Linked DNA regions of Homo sapiens. The protein of the gene in region 3 purifies or fractionates together with the protein of the main gene of each other region. This does not show direct contact. Each region holds a gene or a part of one and is shown on either strand. Other genes may lie near its edges.

The links.
Region 1: the proteins of P2RY8 (region 3) and INTS1 purify together in Homo sapiens (co-immunoprecipitation; 2 studies listed by BioGRID and IntAct, with this or other methods). This does not show direct contact.
Region 2: the proteins of P2RY8 (region 3) and SPG7 purify together in Homo sapiens (co-immunoprecipitation; 2 studies listed by BioGRID and IntAct, with this or other methods). This does not show direct contact.
Region 4: the proteins of P2RY8 (region 3) and ATP1A2 purify together in Homo sapiens (affinity purification with mass spectrometry; 3 studies listed by BioGRID and IntAct, with this or other methods). This does not show direct contact.
Region 5: the proteins of P2RY8 (region 3) and ATL2 purify together in Homo sapiens (affinity purification with mass spectrometry; 3 studies listed by BioGRID and IntAct, with this or other methods). This does not show direct contact.
Region 6: the proteins of P2RY8 (region 3) and ATP2B3 purify together in Homo sapiens (affinity purification with mass spectrometry; 3 studies listed by BioGRID and IntAct, with this or other methods). This does not show direct contact.
Region 7: the proteins of P2RY8 (region 3) and SERINC1 purify together in Homo sapiens (affinity purification with mass spectrometry; 3 studies listed by BioGRID and IntAct, with this or other methods). This does not show direct contact.

The regions. Positions count from the first base shown.
Region 1 is NC_000007.14:1,497,890-1,501,389, forward strand, and holds part of INTS1 (integrator complex subunit 1), read right to left. Parts: intron 2,478-3,500; coding exon 2,281-2,477; intron 2,133-2,280; coding exon 1,995-2,132; intron 1,744-1,994; coding exon 1,584-1,743; intron 1,472-1,583; coding exon 1,366-1,471; intron 1,273-1,365; coding exon 1,086-1,272; intron 964-1,085; coding exon 818-963; intron 665-817; coding exon 523-664; intron 1-522. UniProt on the Homo sapiens protein: Component of the integrator complex, a multiprotein complex that terminates RNA polymerase II (Pol II) transcription in the promoter-proximal region of genes.
Region 2 is NC_000016.10:89,511,403-89,514,902, reverse strand, and holds part of SPG7 (mitochondrial inner membrane m-AAA protease component paraplegin isoform 1 precursor), read right to left. Parts: intron 1,956-3,500; coding exon 1,866-1,955; intron 1-1,865. UniProt on the Homo sapiens protein: Catalytic component of the m-AAA protease, a protease that plays a key role in proteostasis of inner mitochondrial membrane proteins, and which is essential for axonal and neuron development.
Region 3 is NC_000023.11:1,527,186-1,530,685, forward strand, and holds part of P2RY8 (S-geranylgeranyl-glutathione receptor P2RY8), read right to left. Parts: intron 1-3,500. UniProt on the Homo sapiens protein: G protein-coupled receptor for S-geranylgeranyl-glutathione (GGG), an endogenous metabolite present in lymphoid tissues.
Region 4 is NC_000001.11:160,125,759-160,129,258, reverse strand, and holds part of ATP1A2 (sodium/potassium-transporting ATPase subunit alpha-2 precursor), read right to left. Parts: intron 1,708-3,500; coding exon 1,439-1,707; intron 874-1,438; exon of another isoform or gene 864-873; coding exon of another isoform or gene 738-863; intron 608-737; coding exon 409-607; intron 280-408; coding exon 170-279; intron 1-169. UniProt on the Homo sapiens protein: This is the catalytic component of the active enzyme, which catalyzes the hydrolysis of ATP coupled with the exchange of sodium and potassium ions across the plasma membrane.
Region 5 is NC_000002.12:38,300,774-38,304,273, forward strand, and holds part of ATL2 (atlastin-2), read right to left. Parts: intron 1-3,500. UniProt on the Homo sapiens protein: Atlastin-2 (ATL2) is a membrane-anchored GTPase that mediates the GTP-dependent fusion of endoplasmic reticulum (ER) membranes, maintaining the continuous ER network. It facilitates the formation of three-way junctions where ER tubules intersect.
Region 6 is NC_000023.11:153,552,142-153,555,641, reverse strand, and holds part of ATP2B3 (plasma membrane calcium-transporting ATPase 3), read right to left. Parts: intron 2,608-3,500; coding exon 2,373-2,607; intron 1-2,372. UniProt on the Homo sapiens protein: ATP-driven Ca(2+) ion pump involved in the maintenance of basal intracellular Ca(2+) levels at the presynaptic terminals. Uses ATP as an energy source to transport cytosolic Ca(2+) ions across the plasma membrane to the extracellular compartment.
Region 7 is NC_000006.12:122,454,808-122,458,307, reverse strand, and holds part of SERINC1 (serine incorporator 1), read left to right. Parts: intron 1-1,657; coding exon 1,658-1,827; intron 1,828-3,500.

The DNA.
Region 1 (3,500 bases), on a different chromosome or scaffold from region 3:
CCCTGCTTAACCGAGGGACCCAATGCACAGGAGGCGGGTCTGGGCCAGGCACAGGGGCTCATGCCTGTCATCCCAGCACTTTGGGAGGTTGAGGCAGGAGGATCGCTTGAGCCCAGGAGTTTGAGACCAGCCTGGGCCACATAATAAGACCCGGTCTCCACAAAATTTTTAAAAACTACCTTACTATCCAAAGGCAGGAATGAGCTTGAAAAATAAAAACAGAAGGCAACAGGTCTGGGTCTTAGCTCAGAAACCTGGGTGGCTTTTAAGACTCAATGTGGCTCCCTCCTAAATGGACAGAGTGTCAGTTTCTGAGAAAGACGCTGGGCGCTGTGGCTGCACCCACTCTAGAAACGGCTCAACCTCATGCCCACGTGAGTTTCAAAAGCTCCTTCCCGAGACCGAGGAGCATTCTCCCACGAAGCACTGCCAATCCACCGGCCTCCCCAGACGCCACGTGCCCCTCCAGCCCAGAGCCCCATATTCCGGCGTGGAGGGCAAGGCCAGGGACCCTGGGCCTACCTTGGGCGCCAGCTCTGAGCTGTGCTGCAGTGCGGTATAGAGGACCTGCATGTTGTTCGGGTTCCGGGCGCTGGAGAGCTCATTGAAGATCACCAACTTGATGGTGGTGCCCAGGTTGTCCTTGTGCGCGCTCAGCAGCTCCCTGGGTGAGGTGAGGGTACAGACCCTGTCCCCGCTACGCCTGTGCCCCCACTCCGCCTGTGCCCCCACTCCGCCCGCACCCCCGCTCCGCCCACACCCCCACCCACACCCCCACTCCACCCGCACCCCCGCTCTGCCCCGGCTCGCCACGCACCTGATGCACAGCATGAAGTGGTTGAGGAGGACCTTGGGCTTGAGGCGGATCTTGATCAGGTGTGAGATGACGTCCATGTCTTCGGAACCGTGCGTGTTGCAGTTCATGCAGACGGACATCAGCAGGTCCTGGGCCGGCCGGGTCAGCTGCGGGGCCGAGGAGGGAGCAGTGGGCTCACGGCCACCCCGGCAGGAAGACCACGCTGTGGGGCCACACAGAGCCTGCCCCCACCCCCTGCCCCGCCCACCCCCCCGGGGCGCCCCCGCACCTTGGGGTTCTGCAGCCACATCTCCAGCTTCTGCACCGCCAGCAGCCGCACCTCCTTATAGCCGCAGGTGGAGGTGAGGAGCCGCAGGAGGTTCCTGGAGACGTTGTCGATGGGCTGGCGCCGGTTCAGCTGGTCCCGCAGCATGTCCAGGACATACTCCTCCACGCTCTCCGCGAGCTCTTCGTACCTAGGCCAGAGGAGGGAGCGAGGAGGGAGGAAGGTGGCCCCGAGGCGCCCGCCCCCGCCGCCCCCAACTGGGACCGGGCAGGCACGCAGCTACCTGGGCATGAGCTGGCCCTCCTGCTCGGGGCTCAGCTTCTCCTCCGCGATCAGCAACTCCGTCTGGCTGTCCTCCTCCTCCGTGAGGGAGGGGTGTGGGCTGCTCCCTGCAAACCAAGGAGAGGGCTCCATGCAGCGCCTCCCACCCGCCCATCCTCCCACCCCTCCCCTGCCCTGGGGCTTGGACACCCGCCCTCTCTGGCTGGCCGTGTGTCTCACCTGCACCCAGGTCGCCCGCAACGCGGCCCGCCTCCCCCTGCAGCAGCACGCTCCTGGGGGGCATTCTGGTGTTGAAGGCCGTCTGGATGTTGTCCACAAACGTCTTACAGTGAGGGCTGTCCACCCAGATCCGCTCCCCCAGGGAGTCCTCGATGTACACCTGTGTGGCAGCCACACCCTCAGCCCCGAGCCCAGCCGGGCAGCAGCCAGGTTGGGGAACACCCGCCTGCTGCCCGGGGACTGGGTGCCCAGGCGGCCCTCTCCAGCTTCTGGGTGCAGCAGGGACCGTGCCATCACCACCAGGGCTGTCAGACACAGCCCTCTGGAGAGAACACACTTCTGCTTTTCTCTCGCCCCTGCCCCACCCCGTGGCGCTCTGCCATCTTCACCGTCCCGGGAGAGGACGCTCACCTTGACAAAGATCTCGGGCCAGTTCTCGTCCTCCTCGTAGGCGGCCATGAGGAGGTTACAGGCCAGCACAGACACCAGGCTGTTCCCCTTGGCCTTGAAGTTGATGGAGGCGTCCCGCCGCAGGAGGCTACACAGAGCCTGCCAGGGAGGGCGCATGTCACGTGGGAGCTTCGCTGGCCCCAGAGGCAAAGCTGGGGTGGGCCGGGAGGGACACTTAAGGGGGAGGTGAGGAGGGGAGCCAAGGGCCCCAGCGCTGCTCGCCTCCTGCCAGGGGCCCGGCTCAAACCTCAATGACGCCCTCAGTGGCGAAGATGTTGGGCTTGATCTTGGCCAGGTACATGAGGCTCAGGTAGAGGGTGCTGTCAGGCTTGGCGCGGGTGACCTTCAGCTGCTTCACGGCCCCGCACAGCACGCCCTCGATCCTGTCATCGTTGCCCTCCAGCTCGGCCGCCTCGATCTCATCCAGCAGCACCGTGGGCAGCACTGGCCGGGGCAGGCGGTACGGTCAGAACGGGGCCAGGGCAGGGTCACCCCAAAGCCTCGGGACACCGGGAAGACCACGAGGAACCCAGAGCTCTCAGGGTCGGCCCTGCCAGGGACCAGCGATCCACCCTCAGCAAAGTTCCCACAGCGGACAAGCACCCCACCAGATGGTCCCCTTAATACAACAGGCTGCCCCACAGGCCTCAGCACTAGCCCACCAGCCACTCCAGTCCTGGCTCCGCTGTGTCCCACACGACTACCCCAAAGGCTACAGACATTTCCCAGCAAGCCAGGCCACCTGCAGCTTTACTTTCCACTGAATCGTGGCTCCGTCTGGCGGCTTCTTTCTCACTGTGGACCGCAGCACAGTGGCCCTCTCTCCGCACCCACCCCAGCTCCAGTCTCCAGCATGCCCTTCTTCCCACTTTTCCTCCCTCTTTCCATGGGTGCTCGGCTCACAACCTTCCTCCAGACGAGTGCCTGACCCTCCCACATCCTCTGAGGAGCACCAGGGCCAGCACACACCTTTCCTATCGTCGTGTTTGCCACTGTTGGATCGGAGGTTTTCTCATTTTCATTCTGATTCTTCTCTGTCCCAACAGTTTTTTAGGACTGTGTTTTTAAATATCCACAAACGGCCAGGTGCAGTGGCTAGCACCTGTAATCCCACCACTTTGGGAGGCTGAGGCAGGTGGATCACCTGAGGTCAGGAAATCGAGACCAGCCTGGCCAATACAGTGAAACCCTGTCTCTACTAGAAATACACAAATTAGCCAGGCGTGGTGGTGCATGCCTGTAATCCCAGCTGCTTGGGAGGCTAAGGCAGGAGAATCATGTGAACCCGGGAGGCGGAGGCTGAAGTGAGCCGAGATCGTGCCACTGCATTCCAGCCTGGGGAACACAGCGAGACTCTGTCTCAAAAAAAAATAAATAAATAAATAAATAATAAATAATAAGTAAATACATATCCACACACATGTGGACAGAGGCATTGTGATCTACCTTAACTGCGCCCGGGACAGA
Region 2 (3,500 bases), on a different chromosome or scaffold from region 3:
ATCTCAGCACTTTGGGAGGCCAAGGTGGGTGAATCACCTGAGGTCAGGAGTTTGAGACCAGCCTGGCCAACAAGACAAAACCTCATCTCTACTATACAAAAAGAGGGCCTGACGCGGTGGCTCACGCCTGTAATCCTAGAACTTTGGGAGGCCAAGGTGAGCAGATCACAAGGTCAGGAGATCGAGACCATCCTGGCTAACATGGTGAAACCCAGTCTCTAATAAAACAAAAAAATTAGCCGGGTGCGGTGGCGGGTGCCTGTAGTCCCAGCTACTAGGGAGGCTGAGGCAGGAGAATGGCATGAACCCAGGAAGTGGAGCTTGCAGTGAGCCGAGATTGTGCCACTGCACTCCAGCCTGGGCGACAGAGCGAGACTCCGTCTCAAAAACAAACAAACGAACAAAAAACAAAAAATTAGCAGGGTGTGGTGGTGAGCACCTGTAATCCCAGCTACTTCGGAGGCTGAGGCAGGAGAATTGCTTGAACCCGGGAGGGGGAGGTTGCATTGAGCTGAGATCGCACCACTGCACTCCAGCCGGGGCAACAGAGTGAGATTCTGGCAAAAAAAAAAAAAAAAAAAAAAAAAAAAAAAAGTCAAAGGACACACTTTATTGAAATGTTGAAGTATACAGGGAAAGAGCCCTGAAATCAATTCAGAACAATTTTGTATGAAGATTCAGAAGTCTTTTAGAAGATAGTTCTGAGTGGCTGTAAGCATTGACACTTACCGTAAAACCAACAGTAAGCTGAAGATGAGCCTAAAGCCAGAAACGCCTAAACTGAATCCACCTGCGAAACACTGGTGTCCCTTCCCGCAGTTATGACCTCCCCTCGAGAGCTCAGTAGGGAGAGTCAGAGCTCCTCTCTCACAGAGTAAAGCTGTCCCTGGCCTTGGCAAATGCAGCGTCTCACACAAAATCAATCAAGAAGGACGTCACTCCTGAAACAAACTCCTGCTAAACTCGAATTCACAATAATAATCCCCTCATCCAATAGCTGAACCATCATTTCCACATCCTGAAAGCTTTCCTGAAAAGCAACATGGGAAGAAAAAGTCCTTATGACAGTTCCTCACTCGCCTTCCAAGGCCAGGTGCCTTTCTAGAAAGATGAGCTCTGCTGAGCAGGGCGTCCATCTTAACAACGCTGATTTCCAGCGAGAGGCCTCAAGGATCCAAAAGCAAAGCATTCCTGAAGCTGAGTTCAACCCTTCTGCCCCCTGGGGCTGTGAGTCTGAAGCTGAGCCTCCAACTCCTGGGCTCAAGCTCCTCCAACTCCTGAGCTATGACTACAGGTGCACACCACCACGCCTGGCCAATTATTTTCTTCTTTTCTTTCTGTATAGATAGGGTCTTTTTAAATTTAAATTTAAATTTTTTTTTTTTTGAGATGGAGTTTTGCTCTTGTTGCTCAGGCTGGAGTGCAATGGCATGATCTCCACTCACAGCAACCTCCACCTCCCAGGTTCAAGCAATTCTCCTGCCTCAGCCTCCCGAGTAGCTGGGATTACAGGCGTGTGCCATCACGCCCGGCTAATTTTCTATTTTTAGTAAAGACGGGGTTTCACCATGTTGGCCAGGGTGCAGGTGATCCGCCTGCCTCAGCCTCCCAAAGTGCTGGGATTACAGGTGTGAGCCACCACGCCCAGCCTTTTAATTTGCAGTGAGACAGGGTCTCGCTATGTGGTATAGGCCTCAAGTGATCCTTCCACCTGGGCCTCCCAAAGCGTTTCGATTACAAGTGTGAGCCACTGCACCCGGCCCATCTCCCCATTTTCCAGACTGGTTTCACCTTGCTAAAAGGAAAACAGAAATGTAAAGACATCCAGAGGCAGCTACTGACTGAAGAACATCAGATGAATATACCTTCGTCCTCTTCAGGCGCCTTCCCCTTCGACTTATCCTTCTCCTTATTCTTCTGCTTCAACCTTGAGGTGTTAAAATAGAAAGTACCACCTATGAGAAATAGAGAAAGGATTTAACAATTAAGTTTTGCAACCACAGGGGAGGCATACAGGACAACAGTGTACTCCTAAATAACCAAAGCAAAACAAAAACCATCTGAAAAACCTACTTATATCCATAAGATTTATAAATATGAAATAAAGCATATCCTATATCACTTAGTCCAGTATTTCCTAATTACAAAATAATAAACTATTTTAACTTACGTTAAATATCTTTGCTACTTAAATTGCTAATGTGAGGGAATAAAAAATAGTTATGAACACAAATTTGGGAAAATATCACGAATCCCTTTAATATATGAAGTTGCTTTAAAAGAACTTAAACACGCCAGGCGTGGTGGCTCATGCCTGTAATCCCAGCACTTTGGGAGACCGAGGCAGGTGGTTCACGAGGTCAGGAGTTCAAGACCAGACTGGCTGAGATGGTGAAACACTGTCTCCACTAAAAATACAAAAATTAGCCGGACGTGTTGGCAGGCGCTTGTAATCCCAGCTACTTGGGAGGCTGAGGCAGAATTGCTTGAACCCGGGAGGCGGAGGTTGCAGTGAGCTGAGATCACACCACTGCACTCCAGCCTGGTTTACAGAGCAAGACTCCGACTCACAAATGGTTTCCAGACAAGTGGCAACAGCAGCAGCCCAGCCACCACCAAGAGGGGCCGGCACGACACTCCTCACACAGAGCTGTCTCAAAATCTGAACAAATCAGCGTTTACAAATGGGGGAGGCCAGGTGCAGTGGCGCACGCCTGTAATCCCAGCACTTTGGGAGGCCGAGTCGGGTGGATCACGAGGTCAGGAGATCGAGACCATCCTGGCTAACATGGTGAAACCCCGTCTCTACTAAAAATACAAAAAATTAGCCGGGCATAGTGGCGGGCACCTGTAATCCCAGCTACTTGGGAGGCTGAGGCAGGAGAATGGCGGGAATCCTGGAGGCAGAGCTTGCAGTGAGCGGAGATCGCGCCACTGCACTCCAGCCTGGGAGACAGAGCAAGACTCCGTCTCAAAAAAATAATAATAAACAACAACAACAACAACAACACAAAAATGTAGCTGTACGTGGTGACACATGCCTGACTTCCCAGCTACTCAGGACGCTGAGTGGGAGGAGAACCTGGGCCCAGGAGGTTGAAGCTGCAGTGAGTAGAGATTGCACCTGGGCAACAGGGCAAGACCCTATCTCAAATAATAATAAAAAATAATAAAAATAGGGAAAGAGTTTCACAACCATGACCTGAAATGTAACTTTCTTCACAAAGACATGAACGGGTTCACCAGTGAAACGGCCCCGGTTGCCACTTGCATGTCACCTCAGGCTTAAGGAGGCTGAAGCATGTGCTTCCTGTTTCACAGCCACAGGCACCCGTGAGCTGACGTTAAACACTGACAGCAGATGAGCCAGTTGCTGATGCACGGCCAGTGGGCACGGCACTCTCCCTACCCATGTGTTGGCACAAAGCTGTTTAATGTTAGTTAGGAGTAGAAATATTTTACTTTTTCCCTGTTCCAACTCCATAAAGGGGAGCGTGAAA
Region 3 (3,500 bases):
CGCCCAGCCTATTCATTCATTTCTTATCCATCCACCTACCTATCCATCTGTTCATCCGTCCATCTATTTATTCATTCATCTACTCATTCATTCATTCATCCACTTATTCATTCCTTATCCATCCACTCATCTATCCATCCATCCATCCATCCGTTTATCCATCCACTTATCCATACATCCACTATTCATTTGCCCATTCATTTATTCATGATCCATTCATTCACTCATTCATTTATCTATTCATTCATTCATTTATTCCTTATCCATCCACTCATCCATCCATCCGTTCATCCTTCAATCCATCCATTCAGTCATCCACCCATTTATCAATACACCCACTATCATTCACCCATTCATGTATCTATTCATTCAATCATTTATTCCTTATTCATCCACCTATCTATCCATCTGTTCATCCATCCATCCATTTATTCATTCATCTACTCATTCATTCATCCATCCAATCATCCCTTCATTCATTCATTCATCCACTCATTCATTCCTTATCCATTTACTCATCTATCCATCCATCCATCCATCCATCCATTCATCCATTCATCCACTCTTCATTCACCTGTCTACATATCCATCCATCCACTCACTAATGTACTAATCCACTCATTCACTCATTCATTCATTTATTCATTCACCCATCTATTTATGCAGCCATCCATTCAACCATCCAACAAACAGTACTGAGGCCATGTTAATCTATTCTGGTCTCTCATCTACAAAGTCACAGCCCCTACAGGGACCCTGCTCATTCATTCCCTGTGGCTGAGACTGAAGGGGTATCTCCTGTTTCTATTCCACGTGTGGCCACCTGCTGGTCTGTCCCTGTCCTGAGTGCAGGAGTAGTCTCATTCTCCTCCACCCCAAGAACAGATGAGTGATAAATAAATACCTGGAGACAGAATGCCTCCAACCCCAGGGTAATAGCCTGAGTATCCTAGAAGTTTCCTGTGTTCATGCCAAGAGCTTGTGATGGACATATGGACACTGTAGATGGACAACAGCGCCTTCACTGAGCAGCTAGTGCCTGGGAGGCCTCCAGCTTCACTGAGCCTCAGGTTTCATCTATTGCATCTCACAGAGAGGCTGTCTGCAACATGCCCATTTCAACCACTGGCTGAGAGGCTCATGCAGGTATGCATGTGACAGGGCTCCTTGCTGGAGAGTGGGTTCCTGGAGATTCCATCAGAGCTACTGCTGCACAACTGCCCCTTGAGGAGGCCATCACAGCTCTGAGCAGCAGGCGCTGCCAGTCAGCACCGTGTGAACTCAAAGTCTTGCATTCATCCTCATACGACATCTTCAAAACCACTTTAAACGTCCCAGGGAAGCCCGGAGGAGCAAGTGCTTCCAAGAGGCTGGCTCTGGTCTTTGGATTGAGTGTGGATTTGAGTCTCTTTGAATGAGTGTGGATTTGAGTTTCTTTGAATGAGTGTGGATTTGAGTCTCTTTGAATGCGTGTGGGTTTGAGCCTCTTTGAATGATTGTGGACTTGAGTCTCTTTGAATGAGTGTGGATTTGAGTCTCTTTGAATTCGTGTAGGTTTGAGTCTCTGAATGAGTGGACTTGAGTCTGTTTGAATGAGTATGGATTTGAGTCTCTTTGATTGCGTGTGGGTTTGAGTCTCTTTGAATGAGTGTGGATTTGAGTCTCTTTGAATGAGTGTGGACTTGAGTCTCTTTGAATGAGTTGGATTTGAGTCTCTTTGAGTGTGGATTGGAGTCTCTGAATGTGCGTGGATTTGAGTCTCCTCATTCCTGCACTTTTTCAGTTCCCTTTGTTGCATGGGACAGTATAAATGACGCTCCCCATTGATCCAGTTTTGCAAGTAAAAATGTCACATGTGGAAGCCAGCATTTAGTCCTCGGGCAGATAAGCATGTTTGATGAGAATAACACGTACACACAGCGGGGCCCTTGGTCTTGGAAAGGTGGAGAATAAATCCTCCATTTCCCCTGAGACCTGACCTGCACAGGGAATATCTGCTTAATCTACACATGTGTGGCTTGTAACGACAGAGTCTCTTCAATTCTACTTACTTTATTATAGTAACAAGAGCATGCATACAGCACATTGGGAGATGGAGAAATGGAAGGAAGTGATCCAGAGTCCCTTGACCCAGCCCATTCTCTCCCTGAGACCTGGGGGATGGGACATGATCTTGCTTCTCCTTCCAGGTCTCTGGAAGGATCATCTTGTCTTATCTTGCCTGCCTCTCACCCTGTGGTTCAGAATTGCGGGAGATTCTGTTCCAGTGGGGATGCTTGTCTATATCTTGGGCAGTTTGGGGTGTCACAACTGGAGGGTGTACTCCTGGGGCGTGGTGGGTGGAGCCTGGGAAGATGCTCAGTGCCCTGCAGTGCACAGGATAGGCTCAACACAGAGAATCCTCCAGCCCTACATGGCAGCAGTGCTGAGGCTGACACCCTGCCTGAGCATGAGAGAGTCTCTGTTAGTGACTATCTATCCATCTATATCTATCTATCATATCTATCATTTATCAATTTATCTATATATCATATCTAGCTCTCTGGCACCTATATCTATTTATTTATTAATCTTCTCTGTCTGTCATCTATCTATACCTTTCTAGCATTTATCTCTCATCTCTATCATTTATCTGCCTACCATTTGACAGTGGTTTCAACTAGGGGTGATTTTTCTCATCACGGCACACTGGGTAATGTCTGAGGACAGTTCTGGTTGTCGCAACTGTGGGGGTGCTCCTGGCATCTGGTGGGTGGATCCCGGGGATGCTTCTCAATACCTTACACTGCACAGGATGGCCCCACCACAGAGAATCACCCGGCCCCAAATGTCTATAGTGTTGACGTGGAAAGATCCTGCTTTTAGTATAGAGAATCTCTCCTCTCTCTCTCTCTCTCCGTCATCCATCTATGTATCCATGTATCTATGTATCTATGCATCTATGTATGTATGTATGTATGTATGTATGTATGATCTATCTATCTATCTATCTATCTATCTATCTATCTATCTATCTATCTATCTATCTATGTATCCATGTATCTATGTATGTATCTATCTATCTCTATTACCTATCATCACCATTATCTATCTATCTATCTATCTATCTATCTATCTATCTATCTGTCATCTATCTATATGTATGTACATATCTATCTATCTTATCTATTGCTCATCTATCTAGGTATCTCTCTAATCTATCATCTATCTCTCTAATCTATTAATGCACCTATGTATGTATCTATGTATCTATCTATCTAATCTATTTATCCATGTATGTATGTATGTATCTACCTATCTAATCTATGTATGTATGTATATATGTATCTAATTTATGTACGTACATATGTATGTATCTATTCTATCTATGTATCTATCTATCTGATTGATCTATCTCTCTATCATCACCATTATCTATCTATATGTATGTGTGTATCTATCTATCCTATCTATCTATCTCTCATCTATCTATGTATCTCTCTAATCTATCATCTATTTAA
Region 4 (3,500 bases), on a different chromosome or scaffold from region 3:
AAGAGACAAGAATTCAGTGTCAGCATGGGAGGGAAGGGAGTGGAGGATCAGGTGAAGGCGGCACTGAAACCCCCAAGGCAGCCACATCATGTGAGAAGGAAAGCTGGGGCCAGCAAGAGGCTTTGGAGACACCCCCAAAACATACCTGGTGTGTGTCCTGACCCCCTACCTTAGACACGGAGATGTTCTCCTGTCCTGCCTTGAAGACGGCGCGGTTGCAGAGACCAGCAATTCGAGACAGGGCCGTCCACGTAGGGGATCGTTTGTCAAAAGTGGCCCCTGGGAGGAAATGAGGGGGAACCAGGAGCGTGGCTCCCTTTAGAGCCTTTATCTCAACCACTCACCCCACCACGCCACTGCCCTCAGCCTCCTCTAATCCTATCCACCCCCTCTGGAGCACCCAATCACCAGACTGATCTTCGGTGGTGTCAGCCTCATGGATTTGGTTGTCGAACCACATGTGGGCGACGGTCATGCGGTTCTGGGTGAGGGTGCCCGTCTTGTCCGAGCAGATGGTGGACGTGGAGCCCAGCGTCTCCACCGCCTCCAGGTTCTTCACCAGGCAGTTCTTCCGTGCCATGCGCTTGGCTGTCAGGGTCAGGCACACCTGGTAGAGAAAGAGGAGAATAAAAAAGGTTAAGGCTGAAGCCGGAGATGGCCATAACCTTACCCTAGACCGTGGCTCCATTCCTCCTCCCCTGATTCTACTCCACTAACTTGAATGGGTGGGACTTAGCTGTAAATAATGAATGTTCAATTTTAGATGTGTTGAGATCATGAGTATCTGTTAAGATGAAATGCCCATTAGGGGGTTTAAGACGTTTGACTAGAGCTCCAGAGAGGGCCAGAGCAGAGCTGAGCATAGGGATGTCTGAGTCATCAACACAGAAGGGACACTGCAAACTGGGAGGAGATTGGCTCTTGCTCAGGGTGTAGGAAGAACAGACAGCTGAGGCCTGAGAATCAGTGTAGGGGGAGCAGGAAGGGACAGAGGAGAGGCGAACCAGGATAGTGACACATCACAGCAATCGACAAAAGAGAGAATGGTAGGAGGGTGGACAGCAGTATCTGTTTCAGCAGCAGAGTTAGGGAGGAGAGCTGAGAAAAGGTCCCTGGATTTGCTAGTTAGTGACTGGTGACCTTTGAGACAGCCTCTACAGGAGACTTGGACGGAATGAGACCCAGACTGCTGGCAGATCGTGAGAAAAGGCAGCCGTGACAAGCTCCAAAAGAGAAACTGAGTGCCTAAGAATAGCCCCACCTGAGATTTCTCAACTCATACCCTAAGCCATGTATTAAGTGATCTCTGAGTATCGCATCCAATAAGTGACTCTAGGGGGAAAAAGTAGTGAGAAGCTACAAGCAACTGTGCCTCTATCACTCTGAGGAAAGAGTAGTGAGACCCTCCCCTGGTGGCACCTCAGCCTGACCCACTCACAGTGACAGTGGCCAGAAGCCCCTCAGGCACGTTGGCCACTATGATGCCGATGAGGAAGATGACTGCCTCCAGCCAGCTGTAGCCCAGGATGAGGGAGAGCACGAAGAAGGAGACCCCCAGGAATACAGCGACCCCTGTGATCAGCTGGATGAAGTGTTCAATCTCCATTGCTATGGGTGTCCGCCCAACCTCCAGGCCTGAGGCGAGAGTAGCTATGCGGCCCATCACCGTCCGGTCTCCTGTGGCAATCACAATGCCCCTGGCAGTGCCTGCAACATGGTGGGGCATCAGGTTGGGTGCCTTGTGGCTCCCAGGGACTGCAGTCCCATCCTATTTCCTGAGCAAGGAAAATCATCACAGGATAGGTGAGCCAAAGCCGCAGATCTGGAGGCCACATTCAGTAGGTTGTCCCCACTTGGCCTTCCTTTCCCTGGATAGATCGCCAATCCTTGAATCAATACAACAGCAAATTATTTTCTCTTGTACTCGAGCCTGGGGAGAAGCTTGCAAATAATCTCAAAGTTCAAATAGACAAGATTCAATAAATAAAAATTGCCTGTGGCATTTTGGTAAAATCATTCCCATACTTGATACCATCCAAAAGTATATTATGAACACAAAGTAAAGCACTCATTATGGATTTTCCATCCAGTCTTAAGATTTTCTTTCTCAACATTAGGCATGAATCTCTATAGAGGAAGCCAGGCAATTGCTAACCCTTGTGTGACATTACAGGGGTCTTCTGGGAAGGAAGGGTGGTGTATTGAAAAAAGCATGCACATTGGAGCCAGCCAAATTTGGGTTTGAATCCTTATTTGAATTCCTATCTCGGTGCTGTTTTAATATTTAGATGAGATTGTGCTTTAATATACTTAGGCCAGTGCCTGGAACATAGCGGGTGCTCAACAAATATCTCATTTATTTCCTTTCCTCTTTTCAAAGCCAATTGCAGAGTAAGCAATAGGAATGTATTACTAGGCATTTCTGAATAAATCAATTGTGGGAAATGTAAATTTCAAAATCTCAGTACATTAAAAATTTAGGAAATTTGGCCAGGCTCGGTGGCTCATGCCTGTAATCCCAGCACTTTGGGAGGCTGAGGCAGGAGGATCACTTGAGCCCAGGAGTTTGAGGCCAGCCTGGGTAACATAGTGAGACCCCATCTCTAATATACATATATATATATTAGCTGGGTGTGGTATCACGCGCCTGTAGTCCCAAATACTCTGGAGGCTGAGGTGGGAGATCGCTTGAGCCTGGGAGGTCAAGGCTGCAGTGAGCTGTGATTGCACCACTGCACTCCAGTCTGGGTGACAAAGCAAGATCTTGTCTCAAAAGCAAAACAAAAAACAAACTTAGGAAATGTAATGTGTGGTGATTTTTATTTGTACAGTTGGCCCTCCATATTCACAGATTCCATGTCCATAGATTCAACCAACCTCAGATCGAAAATATTTGGAGCTAAATAAAAATAACAATACAACAATAAAAATAATACAAATTTAAAAACAAAACAGTATAAAAATTACATTGCACTCGGTATTATAAGTAATCTAGAGTTGATTCAAAGTATATGGGAGGATGTGCGCAGATTATATGCAAATATTATGCGATTTCATATCAGGGCCTTTGAGGATCCTTAGATTTTGGTAACGAAGGGGGTCCTGGAACCAATCCCTCATGGATTCCAAGCAGTGGAATTCCAACTTGTCGAAGAAGGGAAAAAAACCACAGAGAAACATAATACACTGAGGAGAAATGAGTAATGGACAGGGGAAGTGTGGATTGGGATATGAGGCCTCCTTTGCCCTATTTTCAGAGGCCACTGGTCTAGTGAGGCCTCTTTCTGTCTCTTCCCTCCTACTCCTTCTCTGATGCAGCCCTGACTCTGCTCACTGGCTTTACCACAGAGGGCACAGGTTTCAGTTGTGCTTGGACCCCTGCCATTAAGTGATGGCAGCTCTGGGAGTTCTTATTGACCTTTGTTTATCTCTAGAACCCAGAACAGGGATGGGGCAAACTGGGTAGTCTGTGCATGGTGAAACATGTCTTTTGATGTAAC
Region 5 (3,500 bases), on a different chromosome or scaffold from region 3:
CCAAGTGGCTGAAACTACAAGGTGTGTGCCACCACATCCAGCTGAAGAAACAATTTTATCCAGTATTTTACTTTGACCAGCTTAAATTGTATTTCAGCTCAAGAAGGAAAAAAAAAAAAAAAACTAATTTGTGGTTTAAGAGTAAGAAGGAAAAGATAAGAGTTTGTTAGAAGTCCATATAGGGTCTTTCATCTCAACTTTCTTTTTTTTTTTTGAGAAGGAATTTCGCTCTTATTGCCCAGGCTGGAGTGCAACGGCACGACCTCAGCTCACCACAACCTCCGCCTCCTGGGTTCAAGCAACTGTCCTGCCTCAGCCTCCCGAGTAGCTGGGATTACAGGCATGCGCCACCACATCCAGCTAATTTCGTATTTTTAGGAGAGACGGGGTTTCACCACGTTGGCCAGGCTGGTCTCGAACTCCCGACCTCAGGTGATTCGCCCACTTTAGCCTCCCAAAGTGCTGGGATTACAGGCATAAGCCACCGTGCCTGGCTCATCTCAACTTTCCACTGACAAGATTCATTCATAACTGGGAAGGAGGCAGAGCAAGATGGCCAAATAGAAGCCTCCAGTGATCACCACCTCCAAGGAATATCAAATTGACAACTATCTACATAAAAAACCACCTTCATAAGAACCAAAAATCAGGTGAGCAATCACAGTACCTGGTTTTAACTTCAGATCACTGAAAGAGGCACTGAAGAGGATGTGAAAAACAGTCTTGAATCACCTACACCACCCCTCCCCCATCCTCTCAGCAGCAACCACATGGTGTGGAGAGACAATCTATGTGCTTAGGGAAGTCGAAAGCAGTGACTGTGGAATTTTTGCATTGAAACTCAGCGCTGCCCTGCCACAGTGGAAAGAACTCAGCCAGCACCCATGGAGGAAGAATTTAGACCAGCCCTAGGCAGCCAGTCCTGCCACCATGGGCTACAGTGCTCTGAGGTCCTGAATAAACTTGAAAGGCCATCTAGGCCACAAGGACTGCAATTCCTGGGCAGGTCCTGGTGCTGGGCTGGGCTCAGAGCCAGTGGACCTGGGGTGCATATGATATAGTAAGACTCCAGCTGGGGCAGCCAAGGGACTGCTAGTGTCACTCCCCCTACACAAGCTCAGGCAGTGTAGTTCACAGCTCTGAGAGAGAGTCTTTCCTTCTGCGTGAGGAGAGGAGAGGGGAGAGTAAAGAGGACTTTGTCTTGCAATTTGGATACCAGCTCAGCCAAAGTAGAATGCGGCATAAGGCAGAGCCCTAAGGCCCCAATTTCAGTCCCCAGTTCCCAGACAAGATTTCTAAACACACCCTGGGCTGGAAGGGAACCCACTGTCTTGAGGGGTATGACCAAGTCCTGGCAGGGTTCATCACGTGCTGACTCAAGAGCCTCTGGGCTCTGAATAAGCAGTAGTGGTAGCCAGGCAGTACTCACTATGGGCCTTGGGTGAGATTCAGAAATGTGCTGGCTTCAGGTGTGACCCAGCACATTCCCAGATGTTGTGGCTATGAGGAGAGTCTCCTGCTTGAGTAAAGGAGACAAAGGCCAGGTGTGATGGCTCACACCTGTAATCCCAGCAATTTGGGAGGCCAAGGCAGGCGGATCACCAGAGAGCATCTCTGGACCCACCCAAGGCCAGAGGGAACTTGCTAGATTTGCCACCTGCTGATTGTAGAACCTCTGGGCCTTGACTGACCACAGGCAATAACCACACAATAGTCACAATGGGCCTTGGGCAAGACCCATTGCTGTGCTGCCTTCAGGTCTGACCCAGTGAAGTCCCAGGGATGGTGGCCACAATGGTGCTTGTGTCACCCCCTCCCCCAGCTCCAGGCAGCTCAGCACAGAGACAGAGACTCCATTTGTTTGGGAGAATGTAATGGAAGAGAACAAGAGTCTCTGCCTGGTAATCCAGGGAATTCTCCTGGATCTTACCGAAGAGCACCAAGGCAGTACCTCTACAAATCTGCAAGAGCCACAGCATTATGGGCTTGAAATGTCCCTAATGCAGATACAGCTGCAGTGACCAAGATCACAACACCCAAGTCCCTTCAAATAGTTAGAAAGCCTTCCCAAGGATGACAGGTACAAACAAGCCCAGACTGCAAAGACTATAACAAATACCTAACTCTTCAATGTCCAGACACCAACAAATATTCACAAGCATCAAGACCATCCAAGAAAACATGACCTCACTAAACAAACTGAAATAAAGCACCAGTGACCAATCCTGGAGAGACAGAGATAACTGACCTTTCAGAGAATTCAAAATAGCAGTTTTGAGGAAACTCAAAGAAATTCAAGATAACACAGAGAAGGAATTCAGAATCCTTTCAGATAAAGTGAACAAAGAGACTGAAATAATTATAAAGAATAAAGCAGAAATCCTGGATCCGAAAAATGCAACTGACATACTGAAGAATGCATCCAAACCTCTTTTTTATTTTATTTTTTTGAGACAGGGTTTTGCTCTGTCTCCCAGACTGGAGTGCAATGGTGCAATCCTGGCTCACTGCAACCTCTGCATCCCAGGCTCAAAGGATCCTCCTACCTCAGTGTCCCAAGTAGCTGGGACTACACGCGTGCGCCATCATGCCTGGCTAATTTTTGTATTTTTTGTAGAGACAAGGTTTCACCATGTTGCCCAGACTGGTCTCAAGTGATCTGCCCACCTCAGCCTCCCAAAGTGCTAGGATTACAGGCATGAGCCACCTCACCCAGCCTCAGAGCTTAACACAAGACCTGAACAAGCAGAAGAATTAGTCAGCTTGGAGACAGGCTATTTGAAAATACACAGCTGAGACAAAAGAAAAAAGAATGAAAAAGAATGAAGCATGCCTACAAGATCTAGAAAATAGCCCCAAAAGGGCAAATCTAAGAGTTCATTGCCTTAAAGAGGAGTAGCTAAAGAGACAGCGGTAGAAAGTTTATACAAAGCAATAACAAAGAACTACCCAAACCTAGATACCAATATTTAAGAACAAAAGATTATAGAACACCAAGCAGACTTGACCCAAATAAGACTACCTCAAGACATGTAACAAGCAAACTCCCAAAGGTCAACGGTAAAGAATGGATCCTGGCTGGGCGTGGTGGCTCATGCCTGTAATCCCAGCACTTTGGGAGGTCAAGGTGGGGGAACTGCCTGACCCTGGAGTTCAAGACCAGCCTGGACAACGTAGAGAAATGACGTCTCTGTTAAAAACAACAACAGGCCAGGCACGGTGGCTCACACCTGTAATCTCAGCACCTTGGCAGGCTGAGATGGGAGGATCACTTGAGGCCAGGAGTTGGAGACCAGCCTGTTAAACACAGCAAGGCCCCATTTCTATTAAACCACCACCACAACAACAACAAGAAGCACGAATGGATTCTAAATGCATCAACAGAAAAGAAACAAACAACATACAAAAGAGTTCCAACACATCTGGGAGTAGACTTCTCAGCGGAAACCTTACAGGCCAGGAGAGAGTAGCATGACATAAAGTGCTGAAGAAAAAAAACA
Region 6 (3,500 bases), about 150 Mb from region 3:
GGGGTTGAGAGCGGGAAGCCAGGAGACTGGCCGGGAGGTGGTGGCATTGTCCCAGTGGTGGGGGGACAGGGAAGACAGTTCCCAAATGAAGAGGTATGTGGCTCTTCAGGCTCGGGGACAGAGAGACAGGGTCAGGCAGCTGATGCCACTGAGGTAGACGGGCAGGGGGAGAGGAGAAGAGGAGCCAGGTTCAGAGTTTGGGAACCTGAATGAGGAGGTCAAGCCTAGGCAGTGGGGCTTGTGAGCACCGTCGGGTAAGTGTAGAAGCCTAGGTGTGGCCGAGCCGCCAGGCCTGGGGAGCCTGCGGCGGTGGGGAGTAGACACGCAGGAGTGGGAGCCAGGGGTAGGGCAGCCGGGAGACACCAGGGGAGGACATTGACCTGGGAGTCCCTGAATCCTGGCGCCCCCTGAGGCCATGGGCAGGGGGGCTGTGATCTTTGCCAGGGAGACAGCTGGGGGCCCCACTCTAAGCTGTGACAGGGTGATCCAATGGTTCCTGCAGCATATACCACTAAGTGGCCTCACTGCCAGCCTCGGGGACACTTCGTACTCTCTGAGGATCTTGGGGTGCTGGATAACAAGATCACGAGCCACAAGAAGACAATTCTCCTTTGAGCCAGCGAATGCCTGTCCCTGAAAAGTCTGGAAGCCACCCCTCTGCTGCCACCAAGTGGCCGTGACGAGCCTGAAAACCAGCAGCTGCGAACCCAGGCCTCCTCCCTCCTCAGGCCCAGTGTGTGTAGCCCAGTTCCTTCCCCATGGCCCCAAAGGGCCAGGCCAGGCTGTCCTTCCTCGCCTGCTCAGCCCTGCTCCCTGCCTTCTCCCCAAGGCCCCACAGCACAGCAGCCAGCCAGGTGTCTGGAGAAGTTGCCAGTGCCCCCGGCCGGCCCAGCTCCAGCATCAATACCACCCCAGCCACAGGCTTCCTATGGCTCCCCAGGGCCCAGCCTCACGGGCCCTCCTCTGGCTGCAGCCGTGCCGCATCTCCAAGCACCCTGGCGGTTTCAGTGAGGCCCTTGTGTCCTACTGCCTGTTGCCGGCACCCAGGACTTCGCTGGGCCTTCTGTGCGTCCTCCTCAGCCACCACCAGGCTGGCCAGTCTTTGTGGGGGTCTGCCCAGCCTCCGCAGCCTGGCCCTGTCACTGTGGTCTACCCCTTGGACTCTCTCTCAGCCACTCTTAAGCTGGAAAGGAGCTGTCCCTATTCCCCAGGCCCCTCTGGCAAGATTCCTTCCTCTGCTCTGTGCTTCAGTTGCTCCCTGGTCCAACAGAGGGACTCGATGGCTCCTGTCCCCAAGTGTGGCCTTGCTTCGCCTCACCAGCACCCTCTCCTTCTGCTCTCCCAGGCTCAGTGGGGCCCGGGACTCATGCCGCTGCCCGCCTTTGCGGGGCCCATTTCCCTCGCTGGACTTCTGTCCCCTGTCCTCCGCTACCACCCATTTTCTCCCAGGGCAAGCTCGAGGTGCTCCCTCTCTGGGCGCAGTGACCATGTTCTCCTCGGGGCACGGGGCTGCTCTGTTGACATGAGCCATGGCTGGCGTTTAGACGCACTGTCTTTGAATTGAGTGTTTTTGCTACATGATCCAATACATGAATGCCTGTCTCCCGAAGGAGAGCCCAGAAGCTTCTCCTCCCAGGTTGCACCTGCACCCCCAGGGTGGCTCCTACAAAGACAAGTTGTCAGGGTCACAGTGGCCCTGCTTGTGACACAGGTGGGTGCCATGCAGAGGCCCTGGGGAGACAGAGGGGCACCCCATGCCTTGCATTCTCCCTCCGGGGCCGGCCATCCTCCACACTCTCCAGGGTCTGGGATCTTTCAACAACAAAGTGACTTCCCAGTGTCAAGGCCATGGCATCTGCCACGCGGCCCTCGAGGTCCCCTCATCTGGACTCCCCTGGTGGCATCGTCCATATGGGGATATGCTTCTGGGCTCCCTTTCCCGCCAGGACCTTTGCTGTGAGCTCGCCACAGGACGTCCTGACCGTAGAGTAGCCCCAGCCAAACCCTCAACCAATAAACGCCCACCCTGTGCCCCAAACCTGTGTCCCCTCAGGCTTCAGCACCACCTCCAGTCCATCGGTCCTGGGTGGATCAGATCCCAAATGTCGACGGTCTCTCCGCCACTGCCACCTTCTCACCTGGTAGAAGGTGGAGCCTGAGCTGGGCCCATAGGTCAAGCGGGAAGGGCTTTCCAGCAGGCAGGACAGAGCCTTTGTGCGGGTGTCAGGGTGAGAGCACCCAGGACGGGGCTCAAGTGTACTACGGAGGGACCGCAGCAGCTGTGTGTGAAGGAAGGCCGCCCCTACCAGTCCGGACAAGCTCGGGCAGAGGGCACAGTTACCAGGGCAGCTCACAGAGAAGGTGGTGGCTACCTCGGGCCGCACAGGGTCCTCAATGCCCACGACAGCTATGCAGGTGAGGTCACCCACGACCTCATTCTCGTTGTCCCAGTCGGGCTCCTGGCCTGCAGAGAAGTCCCGGTAGGCGATGCAGATGGTGCGGAGGCCATCGCAAGCCATCGGCTCGATGATCTTCCTCACCATGTCGTCCCGGTCCCGAGGCCGAAAGCCCCGGAGTTCGCCATTGCTGTTCAAGATGTTGGTGCACCTAGGCAGGGGGTGGGCAGAGATGAGGTGGAGGTGGGGAGAGAACAACAAGGAACAGCGCTGGTCACACTGGATTGGGGGCTTAGTCAAGGACTGGGGTCCTTATCAGAGAGGAGTGCCCCGTGTGAGAACACAGACACACAGGGAGAAGGGCGTGTGACAACAGGCAGAGATTAGAGAGGGTCAGCTGCAAGCTGAGGAACGCGAGGACTGGCAGCCACCACCAGAAGCTGGAGGATGCAGGATGCATCCTCTCTGAGATGCTTTGGAGGCGCTTCGGCCCTGCCCACGCCCTGCTTTTGGACTTCCGGCCTCCAGAACTGGGGGAGAATCCATTTCTGTTGCTTGAGGGCACCAGGACGCTCATGCACTGCTGCAGGCTGAGAGACCGGGAGGGAGGCAGGAGCATGTGGCTCATGGCAGCTCCACCACAGACTTCATAGGGCAAGCGGGTGGAACCTGGGCAAAAACTGAAGTCTGTGGACAATCGCTATAACCACGTCCAGGCAGCCACAGCCTCAGTAGAGCGCTCATGACTCCAGGAGCTTCTCAAAAGGGACAGGACTTGGGAGGATTCAGGTGGGGAGAGGAGGGAGCAAAGGAGCCGAGGGTCACAGAGGCGGGCATGGTGGAAGAAGCCAGTGGGGCTGTGAGTGCCAGGTGCTGCCACTGCATGGGAGGCTGGTGACGAAGGAAATGATCATAACAGAAGCTGTGTGGACGGAGAGCCTCCTATGGATGTGGATTCACCCACGGAACCCTCACACCCCTCCCCAGAGATAAGTATTCTGTGATCTCCATGCCACCAGGGAAACTGAGGCATGGGAGTAAGGGGGAGTGAAGCTGGGCTGGGCCTTTTGTCCGCAGTGCCTCAGTGTCCCTCAGTGCCCACCA
Region 7 (3,500 bases), on a different chromosome or scaffold from region 3:
CAGAAAGAAGTATAATTCTAACCAGGTGTCAGAATCTCAATGGGTCATGGAAAAAAGGATGTTCTAAGAATGATTAGAACTTGCATATACAGAGATTGAAAAATAGAAAGCATAATGAGTATAAAAGAGCTTTTCAAGCAAAGTATCTATACTTTAGGAAGATTAATCTTACAATTAATAAAGTATAAAAGTCAAGCAGTTAAATATGGAGGCTGTTGCAGTGGTATAATCAAGAAGAGAATAGCGGACCTGAAATAAGATTTTCTGGATGTAAAATTGACTGAGCCTAGCACTGAAATATTGGCAGTGATATGGAATCATAAATAACAACCAGGTTCTGGTCCTACAAAACCGGGAGGAAAGTATTGCTATTAACCTAGAAAGGAAAATTTTTAGAGAGAGTCAGGTTGTGGAAGGAGATTGGGAACACATAATAAATTTAGTTTCTAACATGTTGACTTGGTGGTATTGTATCGTGTACATGTATATATATATATATATATGTATGTCTTACTCAGTTCAGGCTGCTATAACAAGAATATCATAGGCTGGGTGGCTTAAGACAACAAAAATTTATTTCTCAGTTTTGGAGGCTGAAAGTCCGAGATCAGGGTGCCACCATGGTCAAGTTCTGATGAGGATCTTATTCCTGGTTTACACATGGCCATCTTACATTTTTGAAAGAAAGCAGCAGCTCTCTTCTGTCTGTTTTTATAAGGGCATTAATCCCATCCTGAGGGCTCTACCCTCATGATTTAATTACCACATAAAGGCCCTATCTCCCACTATCCTCCCATTGAGGGTTAGAGTTTCAGCATTTAATTTTGGGTAGACACAAACACGAAGTCCATAATAATATACAGCAGTAAGTAGAAAACATGAAGGAATTTAAAAGAGAAATCAGAGCTAGAGACTGCCTTGAGGATAGAAATTGAATGTTGAAACCATGGCAGCGTATGCTGAAGATCATTCAGAGTGAGCAGAGCTAGAACTCTGCCAAAATCTCTTACTTAAGGGAGTTAGTGGAGAAAGGAAAACCTGATTCTGATCCTAGAAAACTGGGAGGGAAGGGATAACAGAAAAGAACAAAGAAAATGTATAGGTTCTAGGAAGAAAGTTTTAAGAATGACAGGGATAGTGTCTATATAAAAATGAGATTAAGGAATGTGATTAAGCAGTAGCCTTTGGGTTTGGAAACCAGTACATGACTAGTATCCTGGAAAAGCAGTTTTTTTAGAGTGCTGGGACTGGAAAGAGTGGGAGGAAATAATTTATTCTTATATATATGAATAATAGATGTATTAATAGTTCTGAACAGTAGTCTCAGAAATAGCACTTACACTACTAAAACAAGTCTATCGTGCTATTCAAGTAGAATGCAAGTTTTTAAAATGTAGGATAAATCTATAACTCAAAATAAGCAACCAGCATAGAGTTGGTATTGTAGTTTATGATTTGCGCAGATGGGGATTTAACTCTTTTTTCCCCACTGTATGTGATTAAAATGTATCAGACTCATCTTGAGTACATATTCATCATAAATTGTAAAGCAAATGCCAGTTTTCTAAACCTTTACTTAAACTATTTGATTACATGTAATTTTTATTTTTACTTAATGAAAAAAAATGATGGATCATAAACTCTTTTGTTTTTCTAGATTCCTGGATTTTGTGAGAATGAGAAAGGTGTTGTCCCTTGTAACATTTTGGTTGGCTATAAAGCTGTATATCGTTTGTGCTTTGGTTTGGCTATGTTCTATCTTCTTCTCTCTTTACTAATGATCAAAGTGAAGAGTAGCAGTGATCCTAGAGCTGCAGTGCACAATGGGTAAGTTTTTAAATAAGCTTCAATATAAAAGCTTGGGTAGCCTCTTCTTGATAATTGCCAGTTTATCCAAGGAAACTTTAAGGTAAAATAAACTTATACAATTTGCAGAATTACTTTATTCATGAATGACAGGATAAGAAAATCTTGTTTTTACTGGAGAATGTCAGACTTTGGATATTAAATAATAGCTGTGATAACCTCTGATCCACAGTGTTTTATATTTTCATACTAAAAAAGAGGCTCTATTATATTTGTGACTACTAAGGGAATAGCTATTTCTCCTTCTACTGTTAACTTTAGGTGGACCAGTCCACTTACATAGAACTCTCAGTTCCCTAGACCCAGAGAGCAGATTTTTCTAGGTTGGTTGTATTGGACAACCCAGAAAGAAACTTCAGGGTTTCTTTTATCAATCTTCCTTCATATAGAGCACTACTTCTGGTACCCTTATTTGACTGTTTTAATATCTGCTGTTGCTTATCTAGTTATATGTGCTACCAAAGACAAAAAGTATAAACAAGTAGAATATAAATATTAATGAGAAAATATGTGACGGGTTGCTTTTCCTTTATTTTGTTCCTTTGGTCATTGATTATTTTATTAAATTATTAGAGTTTTAGATGGAGGCATTTATCATGTGTTTATAAAAACTATTCATTTATACAGTTCACCTTATACTTTGATACATTATCCCACTTATGTGAAATAAGCCTGTGAAATGGAACTAACATTCTCATTTTTCCATAATGAATTAGTGAGAAATACATCTTTCTCAAAATGGTCTTAAAAGCAGTTTATGTAATTGTTGTTTTTTCTGATAATCAAGTGTATTAGGGTTCTCTAGAGGGACAGAACTAATAGGATAGATAGATATATATAAAGGGGAGTTTATTAAGTATTATCTCACATGATCTCAAGGTCCCACAATAGGCCATCTGCAAGCTGAGGAGCAAGGAGAGCCAGTCCTAGTCCCAAAACTGAAGAACTTGGAGCCTGATGTTCAAGGGCAGGGAGCATCCAGCACAGGAGAAAGATGTAGGCTGGGATGCTAGGCCAGTCTAGTCTTTTCACTTTTTTTTTTTGCCTGCTTTATATTCTAGCCCTGCTGGCAGCTGATTAGATGGTGCCCACCCAGATTAAGGGTGTGTCTGCCTTTCCCAGCCCACTGACTGAAATGTTAATCTTCTTTGGCAACACCCTCACAGACACACCCAGCATCAGTACTTTGCACCCTTCAATCCAATCAAGTTGACACTCAGTATTAACCATTACAAGTCAGTACTTTGCATCCTTGAATTCAATTGACACTCAGTATAACTATCAGAAGTCTACCCATTGTCAACTTGAACCCGTATACATCTCCTGAGATCATACATAATCTGCAAATAAAGACAATAATAAGGTCATACAACTAACCTTACAACTGAAAACGCACCAGTCCCCAACCAAAATACTAATTACATAAAGTTAACAATACTTAAATGCTGATGTGAAGTCAGTAAATCTTATGTCACATGATAAAGGAGAATGGAAATAAAATGAAGATATTTTCTTAGTACAAGTATATGCATGCATGAACATGTTTTTGACAAAACAAGGAGGAAGTACTCACAACAATTACAGCCCTCGTTTCTGCAGCTGGACATGTGGTCATAGCTGGTATTGATGACTGC